2 linked regions of the Homo sapiens genome follow. The protein of the gene in region 1 interacts with the protein of each later gene in a pairwise test. Each region holds a gene or a part of one and is shown on either strand. Other genes may lie near its edges.

The links.
Region 2: the proteins of TTBK2 (region 1) and KLHL12 interact in binary tests that used the Homo sapiens proteins (3 or more experiments, as listed by UniProt).

What each region holds. Positions count from the first base shown.
Region 1 is NC_000015.10:42,917,966-42,922,381, reverse strand, and holds the start of TTBK2 (tau-tubulin kinase 2), read left to right. Parts: upstream 1-1,603; 5' UTR 1,604-1,944; exon of another isoform or gene 1,945-2,524; coding exon of another isoform or gene 2,525-2,623; intron 2,624-4,416.
Region 2 is NC_000001.11:202,906,570-202,910,388, reverse strand, and holds part of KLHL12 (kelch-like protein 12), read left to right. Parts: intron 1-1,264; coding exon 1,265-1,379; intron 1,380-3,819. UniProt on the Homo sapiens protein: Substrate-specific adapter of a BCR (BTB-CUL3-RBX1) E3 ubiquitin ligase complex that acts as a negative regulator of Wnt signaling pathway and ER-Golgi transport.

The sequences.
Region 1 (4,416 bases):
AAATATTTACAGAAACCCTAATGTTTTCTTATTCAAATTATGTGATTGGTCAATACTCTGAAATGAATGAAGTACTCTATTAGACATAGTAATAGAAAAAGTAACGTGTGGTTTTAATCAGTAGAAATAAAAAACAATTTGGCAACATCTTTATGTTTGCATAGAACAAGATGAGCTGCATCATCACTTGCCTTTAATGTACATTTTGTCCTGCTTTCAATCCAAGGATCTGGACATGACAGAGAGTAGAGATGCCTGCTGTTTTTAAAAAGAATGGCAAGAGGCTGTGGCACTTCCTGAGCAAGAAGAAACAGATTCTATAGGAACAGTTCCAAGATTGAATATAGGATTAGTCATTTACCTTTCTATATTCTTAATCAGCTTTAATGACAATGTCACTTGAGTGAAGAAAAGGATTTAAAGTAAAAATGAAGTTCATAATTCATTACATTCTTTCCATTCATGGCAGAACCCTGGGGATCATTGTGATTCTTAAGTAGAAAGGACATTAGATGTGGGGCGTATGAGAGACCTGAGTTTTGGTTTTGCCACTGATTAGTTTATAGCCTTAGGAAAGCTGTTTAGCGTTTTTCATGTGTTTTCTCTACTGTACACTGGTGGGCAAAGATGGGAGAGGTGCTTAATCTTAAGGTTTTCCTTCGCCAAAGCGACTGACACAACACTAAATAGAAACGCATCCTGCACAGCGTCCTTGCTCCGCCCTCCTCGCTTTTCTTTGAAAGTCTTTGAGCACCTCCCGCATACACTTGCTCAGCATCGCATACTGGTGTGCACCGGGGCTGGCCATTGAGTCTTTAGCTGGTGGTGTTTCACAAAGGGAATGAAATCTTGTTCTTGGGTTGTGAAACCGTAAGGACACTCCGGTCTCCAAGTTGACATTCGTTTATGGAAGTGCCCATCTCCTTTCCTCGTCACACCTAAGGCCCTTCCCCAGTCCCCCAAAGATGATTAGCTTCACGTTAGGCGGTTCTGGGGACGGCGCCAATTTGCGGGATGCTGTCAGCGCTGATGCTGAGGAAGAGGATGGATCCTTAAGGCTTGCAGGGCCTCACGATTTGGGCCCTTCATCGCGACTGCCTCAGTGTGTAATTTCGTATCGTGACAAAGCATTTCCGATTTTATTCCGAAAAGCCCAACCATGGGGTCCCAACCATCCCTCTATAACCAATTTAACTGTCACGCTAGGAGAACACCTATGTGCGCAAACTACTTGTCTCGGAAGCCCTACTTCTCTCCTCGGGACAGGCGGGGAGTTGCGGCTATGGCTGGAACTACGAGGCCCAGAATTCCTAGGCGCATGCGCGCTGCCATTGTGATGCTCCTTTCCCGGTAACTCGCCCTCTCAGGCAAACCTGAAGATAGCGGCAATTCTCCGGTGGGGGGCGGAGACGGTTTCTGCCCGACTCTCCGCCCCCTTCGTGATAGGCAATGGGACTAGCCAACCGACGCTGCGAGTTCGGAACGCACTCTCCAATCAGCACCTGTAGCGGAGAGGTGGGCGTGCGCGCTGGCAGGGCAGGTGGGCTAGGCTGTGTCGGGTTACGAGGGGGGAGAATAACGTCGGGTCGGGTCAGCGGGCTCTGCAGTAGTCGCCGCAGCGGCGATGGGAGCGGTGGGGACGAGGCGGCGGCGGCGGCAGGAGGGGGAGCAGGTGCTGGCACAAGAGCAGCGGCTTGGGGGAGCCGGCAGCAGCAGTAACAGCAGCAGCAGCCGCCGCCGCCGCCGCCAGTAAACGCGGACGGTACCCCAGGGGACTACCCAGCCGGCCGGCCCTGGAAGCCGCGCTCGGGTCCCGCCGCAGTCGGCGGTGGGGGATGGGCAGGCAGTGGCGGTCCCGCCTGCCGAGGGTTAACCCCCGCCGGTCCCGGTCCTGAGCTGGACCAGAGCCCTCCTCCAGAAACCCCTGCGTCCGCCACGGCCCAGGTAGGACACACCCCCCGACCCCCCAGGGCGCCGCCCTCCCCCAGTCTCGACCCCCTCCTCCGGCCGCACCCCTCGCCGAGTGACCGAGCCTGCTGAGGAGGGGAGGGGTACCGGGGACTTTCAGTTCGCTGCAAGCCCGGGGCTCGTGCCAGACCCCGTCACTCTCCATCTCGGAGATCGTTCTGGTTCTGCCCGATTTCCCCGAAGGCTGCCGCCTCGTTTTGCCCCAGGCTTTGGGTGTCTTCACTGAACTTGGAGGGTCACGAAGCTTCGTTCTGCGTCTCTCTCTGTGGGTGACCCACATATCACTTGTACCCATGCCACTTCTGGTACCAGCACCGAACACGAAGGATTCCTAGGAAATCTGAGCGCTTATTTCCCACCCCGCCTCCCCAACTATCATGGAAAGGAACATGGGACTACTGAATCTGTTTGCTGTGTTGTAACGACAGTGAAGGCCGCGACTTTCTTGTACTTAGGGTGCTGAAGTAATGATCTGAGGGATTTGCTCGTCATTTGCTGTGGCAGAGATGATGTTGACACCCTGGGATGCTGTGGGAGGGACAAAAGACTCACGTATATGTTCTGTCAAATCGGAGAAGTAAATAATCCATTGGGATGCCAGGATACTTTATTCTACAGCGAAGTTAATTTTGTATCCGTCGAGGCTACAGTAGAGGTAAAAATGACATTGAGTTGTACTTTGCTTTGAATTAAAGTTGATGGGTAGCAGCAATCCTGGTATTAACTCTTCTCTCTCATCGCTTTAGAAATTATTCTTTCTTTGAACATTAAAGAGGACAGTTTTATTATACACTTCTAATAATGTGAAGATGTTTTGTAATTCAGTAGAAATTGAGTTTCTGTGTGTGTAGGAGGGTCATGTTATGAATGGGCACATGTAGACACACACGCAGAGGGAGGATCCACTCAGTGTGTTTTGTTAACAATGTTTGGTTCTGAGCCATTGATAATAGTTGCATTGGTATCTAAACCCTGATTTGCCACAGTATAACACAAAGATGTGTTGGCTGTGTACCTTTGGCTAAATGGAATAGAATAAAGTTCATTTGGGGATAGAAGGGGGAAATGATTTTAACTTATCAAGGGAATTGAATGCTATGTATTGCTTGCTTTATTTCCTTTTTTTTTTTAAATAAAGAAGCAGTAATGATGACAAATATAGCTTAATATGATTAATCTTGAGGCATTTGTCTGAAGTCAAAAAATGTTTCAAATAATGTGTGTGTTATATTGTGATCTATGCAAATTGAAAACATTGAAGGAAATCTTTGATTTAGAAGCTTATGTTTTCCTGTATGATAACATTTTATCAAGACACCGAAGGGGACATATGAAGCATGGTTTTAAAGGAAAGTTTCTCTTAACATTTTTCTTTTATGATAGAATGTTAGGAAATGCTTTCTTCCCTCTTCCAGTTTTAGACACAGAAGAAATTAAAGTCCATAACTTCATTAATTTAATATATAATATCAAGTTGATGCAAATTTGTACATTGGTTAGGGGGCTGAGAATAATATATCTTGCTCATTATCTTGTACTATGGTTAATACATAATTTAGTAAATTCTCTATTGCATTATATATGACTTTAGATTGTTGTATCTTCTTTTGATTTTAAGTGTTGATTATTTTAATACTTCAGGAAATCTTCAAGAGGTTAGACCTCATTTGCTTTAGCAAATTGAACTCAATTATGTGGGGCTTCAAGTATCTTTAAATGTAATACTAGAAGGGAAGTTTGCATAATTTAGACCATTTTCGAGCGTATTTTACTTCTAAAAAGTGCACTAAAAATGTGGCAATGATAAGTTATTGGTTTTTCAAAGTAAATGAATATTACAGATCCGAGTTAGCTGTGATCATGGAATTTAAATTTCACTTTGGTGGGGGGCAGCCACTTTTTTATATGCTTTATAACTTTAAAAAGTAACATATCCAGATGACTGCTTGATTGCAACTCATGAGAGACTCTGAGCCAGAACCACCTACCTAAGACACTTTCAGATTCGAATCCTGAGAAACTGTGTGAGATAATAAATGTTTGCTGCTTTAAAAAAAAAAACCTCATGCCTGTAATCCCAGCACTTTGGGAGGCCAAGGCAGGAGGATCGCTTGAGCCCAGGAGTTTGAGACCAGCCTAAGTAACACAGGGAGATCCTGTCTCTACAAAAAACAAACAAAAATTTAGCCGGGCATGGTGGCTCACACCTGTGGTTCCAGCTACTAGGGAGACTGAGGGGGTGGATCGGAGGTTGAGGCTGCTGTGATCTGTGATCGCTCCACTGCACTCCAGGCTGGGTGACAGAGCAAGACCCCATCTCTTGAAATAAATAAATAAATAAATAAATACAAATCTATGACAAGGGAAAGTGTTTAGGATCATTATTGATCTAGTAAGGACTGTGTTGATCAGTAAAATAAAAAGTCTTTGAGAATTATGGAAAATATA
Region 2 (3,819 bases), on another chromosome or scaffold:
CATCTCAAACTCTTTTTCTCCTGTTTGTGATTTCTGTCTTTCTTACAACCAATTCACATATCCCTTGTGTCTAGTTCTTTACATTGTGTTTAGGAGCACAGACTCTGGAACCAGACTCGGGCCTGAAATCCCAAATTCACCACTTACTCTGTGAACTTAATATGTCTTAATATATTTGTGCCTTAGCTTTCTTATGTGTAAAACAGGGATGATAATAGTACGTTCCTCATAGGTTCTTGTTAGCATTGAGTAAGTTACTATGTGAAAACTTTTAAAACCAAGTCTTTGTACATAAGTGTTTACTACTATTTATTGTTTGTTTTCCTTTCCAGTTCGACTAAGAACTTCTTGGGTCAGGTTAATAGAGGTGCCATTTAATTAGAGCTGTGTCCTTTAGGGTCCCAACAGGAAACAGATGCTATACTCAAAACAGGACAATTTTAGAAGAGTTTTTTTTAATAAAGAAGCTGTTTACAAAGGCGCAAGTTCAGAGAAACAACAAAAGACAGTGAAATAACCTGGATCTAGGACATAAGCTATTAACAACCCCTAAGCCTGAAGGGACAAGGTTGAGGAGTGGTTACTAGAACCTTAAAGGAAAGAGAATCGTGTAGAGTCACTGCCTTGAGAGAAACCTTGACCTTTGGTTGGGCTGATCCCAACCAGAAGCTAGAAGGCATAGGAAGCCCTATTGACACAGTTCATATAGGCCAGTCTTCTGAGCCAGAGAGCAGAGTGGAAAAAGGTACAGAGTGAGTTGGGAGGCAAATGAAAGATGTCCAGTACAGAGCTGTCAGAAATAGACAATGGTAATTACAACAGGACTGTGAACCTTGGGGGAGATATTTCAGACAAAATATGATTCTTCCTGTCACCCAGAAAATAACAGAATCTTTTTGGTTTTCCCCTTAAAATTCTTATTAGTTATTATGTACTTGTGTTTGCATAATCCCTGGAAGGGCATCCAAACTATGTAAAAATAGTTAAATGTAAGCGCTGCGATAGATGGGAAATACTGCTCAACATATCTGTTTATATCATTTGATTTTTGATCCATCTAGTATGTTATCTATTTTTCAAGTAAATTTTAAAAATCATTTCTGGAAACCGAGAGCATGGTTACTACCAGCAATACTCCTGGAATCACAGGGCTTTGCAAACTGGTTTTCTGTAGTCAGAAGTTAATTATTTGCATGTGCTCTTTGTACTCTTATAGTATTACAGGTATCCCCAGTGCCTAACTCTGCTGTCTGCTATATTTCAGCCTTTCATCCGCTGTAGTTTACAATGCAGGGATCTGGTTGATGAAGCAAAGAAGTTTCATCTGAGGCCTGAACTTCGGAGTCAGATGCAGGGACCCAGGACAAGGGCTCGCCTAGGTAAGCTGGTATCTCGGCAGAATGAGGGGATGCTTTTCAACTACTTCTTGCAGGTGACAACATAGTTGAAAATAATACTCTATAAGAAGTACAGACACCTCGTTTCAGACCTTTTCTTCTATCATCTCAGACAAGTCACTTTACCACTCTAAGCTTTCTTTCCTATAAATCAAGGATGTCTTCTCTATCTACTTCACATAATTATTTGGAAATTAAATGAGATAAAATATAAAAGCACTTTATACATTGTCAGGCATTACATAATATGTTACAATTTTTTGTCAATATTATTTAGATTCTGTGAATTAGAGATAATTTTAGTGCCACATAATGGCAGGTAAGTAGTATATGCTTCCACCCACCTCTTCACTTCCCCTTATGTGGTTTTTCCATTCCGGAATGAAGAGAGGAAGAAAAGGAGCCCAGTGTGGTAGAAAGTACATGGGTTTTGGCAGTTACTGTTGGTGCAGGTACCAGTTTACCTCGTACTAGATTTATTAACTTGGGCAGGAACCTTAACCTCTGTGTGCTTCAGTTGCCTCATCTGTAAATGGAATCATCGTAGCACCTGCCTGTAACATTGTTATGAAGAGTAAATAAAGTTATTTATGTAAAGCCTTAAAACACTTCTTGGCACATAATAACTATGTGTATTAGCTATTATCTTAGCAAATAGACCTAGGTTCAAATCCAAGCCCCAGCAATGACTGGTTGGGCAAGGTATCAATTTATCTGAGCCTGTATGTCTACCACTAAGATGAGAGTTAGTGTCTTATCTCAGTGTTGGGAGGATTGAATGAGATAATGTATATAAGATACCTAACACTATAGCTGGCACACACTAAATACTCAGATATCACCATACTTTCCACTTCCTATTCTCTTTGCTTCACTGTCCAAAAGCCTAGGTGTATAGTGTATAAAAACATTTTATAAGTTATGAATTACTCTATATGTATGGGGTGGTATTTTGTTTTATTGTTTCCTTTTATCTGACTGAGGACTCATGATGCGTGCTAAGGTGTTAGTTGATAATTAAGCTGCTCACTGATGGGTTTAGGTAGAATGGTGATTTATCCGCTATATTTTATTTTTTTTAATAGAAATGAGGTCTCACTATGTTGCCCAGGGTGGAGTGCAGTGGCGTGATCTCGGTTCACTGCAGCCTTAGCCTCCTGGACTCAAGCAGTCTTCCCACCTCAGCCTCCCAAGTAGCTGGGACCGCAGGCACGTGCCACCATGCCTGGCTAATTTTTATATTTTTTTGTAGAGACAGAGCCTTCCTTTGTTGCCCAGGCTGGGTCTTGAACTCCTGGACTCAAGCAGTTCACCTGCCTTGGCCTCCCAAAGTGCTGGGATTACAGGCCTCCCATATATATATATATAATTTTTTTCCTTTTTTTTTTTTTTTTAAGACAGAGTCTTGCTCTGTCACCCAGACTGGAGTGCAGTGGTGCAATCTTGGCTCACTACAACCTCTCCCAGGTTCAAGCAATTCTTGTGCCTCAGACTCCCGAGTAGCTGGGACAACAGGCGACTGCCACCATCCCTGGCTAATTTTTGTATTTTTGGTAGAGACAGGGTTTCTCCATGTTGACCAGGCTGGTCTCTAACTCCTGGCTGCAATTGATCCACCCACCTTGGCCTCCCAAAGTGCTGGGATTACAGGCATGAGCCACCATGCCTGGCTCCCTCTCCTATATTTTTTAATGGCATAAGTACTGCATGTTCAATGTAGAACTTGTAGAAATACAGAGAAGCAAAAAATAAATAAAAATCATCCATAATCTTACCACTCAAAGATACTGCATTTTTTTAAAAAGAGAACTTTTAGATAGGGCATTGTAGATGGTATTTTCTACTACTGCAAGATGACAAAATGTGATCTGTGTTTCATATGCTTTATACACAGATACATATCAACACAAGATAGATTGAAGGACTGAATGGTGAAAAACTATGAGAATATTAGAAGAAATTATAGGAAAATATTTGTATACCTTCTGGATGGAAGTCTTTTTTTTCTTTTTTGTAAAATATATGTAACAGGCCGGGCACGGTGTCTCACACCTGTAATCCCAGCACTTTGGGAGGCCAAGGTGGGCAGATCACTTGAGGTCAGTAGTTCGAGACCAGCCTGGCCAACATGGTGAAACCCCATGTCTACTAAAAATACAAAAATTAGCTGAGTGTGGTGGTGCACACCTGTAATCCCAGCTACTCTGGAGGCTGAGGCAGGAGAATCGCTTGAACCCGGGAGGCGGAGGTTGCAGTGAGCCAAGATTGCACCATTGTACTCCAGCCTGGGCGACAGAGTGAGACTCCATCTCAAAAATAAATAAATTAATTAAATAAAATATATTTAGCATAAAATTTACCATCTTAACCATTTTTACATGTACAGTTGACTCATGTTAAATACATTGTTATACAATCAATC